2 separate regions of the Homo sapiens genome follow, and region 2 is linked to region 1. Evidence: fine-mapped expression QTL. Tissue or cell type: whole blood. Region 1 holds a variant in brackets; the other region holds the start of a gene. All regions are shown on one strand. Distances are between the middles of the regions.

Region 1 (2,500 bases):
TGTGACCCTGTCTCAAAAACAAAACAAACAAACAAAAAACACAAAAAACAATACATAAAAAAATAGTCAAGGATATAGAAGAAAACTGAGTATCTAGGAAGAAACAAAATACAACACTGATCCTGTTCTATGAAGAGAAAATGATGGTGGCCAAACTACTGTTCACTATAAAATAGACATTAGGTCTCCACTCTACTGTTCAAAATTCTGAATAAATACCTGGTTTAAACTCAAATAATAAAAACAGGCCTGGCTGCTACAGATGTGAGAAAAATATAAAACGAAAAAATAATAAACAAATATAGGCACATTATGTCCAATAAAAAGATAAAGAGGCACGACTAAAAATCAGAAGCAAGTCAAAGCAACACCAAAATGCAGATTTGCCCTAACGTCTTCCTCTCCGCATACCCTGAACACCAATAATTAGGGCCTTATCCCTGAGCATTTTCTAACCAATACCAACTACAGTTTAGGTAACTCAGAAATATGATGATTAAGACAGGCTCGACTAATCCCATCTTGAAACCTTTCTCTCTGGCAGGCAAGGTAAAACGTGCCTCCCCAAGCTTTCACATCTAGAAACTGCCTCTCCCCAGGCTGTCTACCACCAGTTTGTCAAATAAGAAAAACAGAAAATACCAAAGAAAACCAATAGGATAAATTATTCAAATGTTATTGGTCTGGAATTATCAACCCACACATGGATGAATCTCAAAATAATTACACGGAGTGACAGAAACCAGCCCCCCCCACAAAAAGTACACAATGAACAATTCCATTTACATAAAATTCTAAAAAATGCAAACTAGGCCAGGCGCGGTGGCTCATGCCTGTAATCCCAGCACTTTGGGAGGCCGAGGCGGGCAGATCACGAGGTCAACGACGAGGTCAACATATCGAGACCATCTAGGCCAACATGGTGAAACCCCGTCTCTACTAAAAATACAAAAATTAGCTGGACGTGGTGGCACGCGCCTGTAGGCCCAGCTACTCGGGAGGCTGAGGCAGGAGTATCACTTGAACCCAGGAGGCGGAGGTTGCAGTTAGCCAAGATTGTGCCACTGCACTCCAACCTGGAGACAGAGTGAGATTCAGTCTCAAAAAAAAAAAAAAAAAAAAAAAAAAAGCAAACTAATCACTATATCAAAGAAAGCAGAAAGCACATCAATGGTTGCCTAGGGATAGAAGTAAGGGGAAGGGCTGGGAGAAAAAGATTTTAAAAGGGCACAAGAAGGCCGGGCGCGGTGGCTCATGCTTGTAATCCCAGCACTTTGGGAGGCCGAGGCGGGCGGATCACGAGGTCAGGAGATCGAGACCATCCTGGCTAACACAGTGAAACCCTGTCTCTACTAAAAATACAAAATATTAGCCGGGCGTGGTGGCGGGTGCTTGTAGTCCCAGCTACTCGGGAGGCTGAGGCAGGAGAATGGCATGAAGCTGGGAGGCAGAGCTTGCAGTGAGCCGAGATCGCGCCACTGCACTCCAACCTGGGC[G/A]ACAGAGCAAGGCTCCGTCTCAAAAAAAAAAAAAAAAAATTAAAAAAAATTAAAAGGGCACAAGAAAAACTTTGGGACCAACTTTGGGGCCAGGAGTTGTGGCTCACACCTGTAATCCCAGCACCGTGGGAGGCCAAGACAGGTGGATCACCTGAGGTCAGGAGTTTGACACCAACCTGACAATATGGTGAAATCTCGTCTTTATTAAAAATATAAAAATTAAGGCTGGGCACGGTCATGAGGTCAGGAGTTTGAGACCAGCCTGGCCAATATGGTGAAACCTCATCTCTACTAAAAATACAAAACATTAGCCAGGCGTGGTGGCACGCACCTGTAGTCCCAGCTGCTTGGAAGGCTGTGGCATAAGAACTGCTTGAACCCAGGAGGTGGAGGTTGCAATGAGCCGAGAACGCGCCACTGTGCTCCAGCCTGGGTGACAGAGCAAGATTCCATCTCAAAAAAAAAATACAAAAATACAAAAATTAGCCAAGCATGGTGGCGCATCCCTGTAATCCCAGCTACCTGGGAGGCTGAGACAGGAGAATTGCTTGAACCCGGGAGGCGGAAGTTGCAGCCAGCCGAGATGGCACCATTGCACTCCAGGTTGGGTGACAGACCAAGACTCTGTCTCAAAAAAAAAAAAAAAAAAATTTGCTGGGCATGGTGGCTCACACCTGTAATCCCAGCACTTTGGAAGGCCGAGGCAGTTTGATCATAAGGTCAAGAGATCGAGACCATCCTGGCCAACATGGTGAAACCCCATCTCTACTAAAAACACAAAAATTAGCTGGGCATGGTGGCGCACGCCTGTTGTCCCAGCTACTCAGGAGGCTGAGGCAGGGGAATCGTTTGAACCCGGGAGACAGAGGTTGCAGTGAGCCAAGATCGTGCCACTGCACTCCAGCCTGGTGACAGAGCAAGACTCTGTCTCAAAAAAAAAAAAAAAAAAAATAGCCGGGTGTGGTGGCAAGCACCTGTAATCCCAGCTACTCAGGAGGCTGAAG
Region 2 (2,614 bases), 30 kb before region 1:
TTGTGAATAAAAGTAAGTAAAAAGTAAAAGTAAGTAGGCCATGACTGAGGACTGGAGAATCTACCCAGTGAGTAAAGCACAGGAGTATTTTAGCAGCTGAGGGGTCCTTTCTGCTCCCTCAAACCCTGCACTGTTGCCCTATAGCTGACCTCCAAATAAGTGAAGTGTCACTGCACATTGTTCCCAAGATTATTCTTTGCCTCTTCCATTGGAAGAGTCCACTGAGGATAGCAATATAGACTGTTCCCAATAATAGGAGACAGTTGGAATATTTAAGAGAAGGAAAGCTGCACAATGTAGAAATGAAAAATCCTTGGCACTGGAAAGATGTGGGTGGGATTCCTGGTGTTCCCATTTTCCAGCTGCAAGATTGCTTTAGGGACGGGGCACCCACCTACCACTGTGGGCCTTGGGCTCAAGAAGATGAAAGGAGATAATGCAAGAAAGTACTTAGCACAGCATCTGGCAAAAACGGGGCAAGGAAAGGAAATCGGAACGTGTGTCTGGGAGCTTAAGGGTGTCAGGAAGGAGGACAAGAAGGAAAGGGGCAGGAGAAGGAACCTGAAGGGAAAGGGAACTGGGCAGAAAAAGAACGGTAAAAGAGATGTGCTATCTGGGCTTCCTACAAACAGGCAGACATCACCCATTGCGTACCTGCCTTGCATAGCCCAGAAGGCCTGGCAGCTGCACCAAAAAAACATTAACAGTGGGTAGGGGAGTTGGGGGGTAGCTGGCACTCCCCCTTCCCCACCCACTTAAGATTGGGAACCTCGTGTTTGAGATAGCTAGCTTTGTCTCACCCTTTTTTCCTGCTCTGATTATCGTTAGCTTGGTGGGCCTGGCAGGGAGAGAAGGTGGAAGAGTCTCCACAGTGGTTTGCCCCTACCTGAACTTAGTGGCAAAATGAAGCTGCCCAAATGAAGCAGCTGAATTTCCTTCCTCAGAGCCCGCATCTGCCTAGGGGCTGGGAAATGAGTACTTTCGTGGCTCTTAGCCCAGAAGAGGCAGGGTGGAGAAGGAAAAGGTGGCAGGGTGGCTGACCCTCAGTCCCCACACCTCTTTTGGCCTGCATCTCTTTGTCTTTCAGACCAGCTTTTAATCTTTCTGCCTCTTGCCCCTGTGCAGCCACTGAGCACGCTCTCTGGGCTAGACACTGGGCTAGGGGTCTGGAAATACAAAGACAAATGATGCGTAGTCCTGGCTGCTGGAGAAAGACCTTCACCTCCCCAGGTCCCTGCCTTCTGTCACCCTGAGCTCCCTTACCCACTGACACCCCCTGCAACCCTTGTCTGTTCTGCCCCTTGACTGTTCTGTCATAACTCAACCAAGCTCTGCAGTGTGTGTGCTCCCAGAGAGAAGCGACACAAAGAAAAGGGAGGGGGGGCAGAAAGGAGGGAATCCCGCTGACATCACTGCTCATTAGCATGTGTGACCTCATCAGGGGGTGGGACAATTTCCCCAGGTGTCTAGGGGGGAGGGCATGTGTGTGTGTCGGGGGGGGGGGTGGTATTTAAAGGGAAAAGCTGACAGTGCTGCTGAGTGAGGGAGAGGGTGCTGCGAGCTGCTGGGCTGCACACGCACACGCACACGCACACGCACACTGATGCACACGGACCTGGACACAGACATGGACATGGACACAGAAACCACAGCACTCTGCCCCTCTGGCAGCCGCCGGGCCTCCCCTCCAGGGACGCCCACACCAGGTGAGGGCTAACCTGGGCAGGTTCCGGCTGAAACCATGGGGGTGGGAGCTGAAGCTTTGGTGGGGAGGTCAGAACTAGGGGTTGAGGGAGCTTGAGCTCAGTCAGCAAGAGGAGAAGAGCAATTGAGAAAGTGGAGAAGACCCCTGCTCACACAAGGGATTGGGGCTGGGCTAGGGTGGAGGGGAAGAGCTGCCTAAATGCCCCCTCCCCCAGCACTCCCAGGGCTTTGCTTGAGAAACTGGTACATGGCCCCTAGCTCAGCCTCATTCCCGAGGCTGGAACAGGCAAGAAGGAAGGGGAGAGGAAAGGGGCAGCCCACAAGCCTGGGAATCACAGGCAGGGGCTACCCCGGGGAACTATTGTAAGGGTTCTTCTGGCTGCTGGAGGCCCTGGCTGCTGGCCAAGTATTGATCCTGGGCTATTTCCAGCCTCCCTCTAGCCCCCTTTGTTGTGTCTGTTGTTCCTCCTCCAGTTACCCTGACCCACGCATTGTCACTCTCCCTTTCGCTCACACACACACACACACACACACACTATCTCTCTCTCTCTACTTCTACTGCTCTATGAACACAATATTCTCTCCCACTCACAGGGACAGACAGGGATGCAGGATTCTCACATCCAACCACGCAATGAGGGATGCTCACCTACAGGGCCACGGGAAGCAGCAGCCCCTCTCTCTCTCTCACACACACACACAGAGAACCCACAGAGACCCAGCACGCACATCATCTCAAAAAGCAAAGGCCCTTTCCTAGGAAGAAGCTCACTACAAAGTTTTTTACTCTGCTATACCTACTCCCCAGACACTGGGCAGCAGTTTCAGCTTGTCATCCTCTCTGCTCCTCAGTTTGGGGATTACCAGTGCTGGAAACAGGAGGAGGAAGGGCCTCTTGATGGAAAAAGAG

Evidence for each region. PIP is the estimated chance that this variant, and not a neighbour inherited with it, causes the effect.
Region 2: REM2 starts here. The variant in region 1 is fine-mapped to the expression of REM2 in whole blood (TOPMed, PIP above 0.99).

The regions. Positions count from the first base shown.
Region 1 is chr14:22,911,897-22,914,396 of GRCh38, forward strand. All of the region lies in intron 1 of RBM23 (RNA binding motif protein 23), which reads right to left. Among named protein-coding and RNA genes, the nearest start is that of RBM23, 6.0 kb to the right of the region's middle. The variant G/A (reference allele first, on the strand shown) is at 1,497.
Region 2 is chr14:22,881,685-22,884,298 of GRCh38, forward strand. REM2 (RRAD and GEM like GTPase 2) reads left to right here and starts at 1,538. Exons shown (of 5, transcript NM_173527.3): 1 at 1,538-1,706. The coding sequence starts at 1,604. LRP10 (LDL receptor related protein 10) reads left to right here. Exons shown (of 7, transcript NM_014045.5): 7 at 1-29. RefSeq lists enhancers at 1,251-1,789, 1,790-2,327.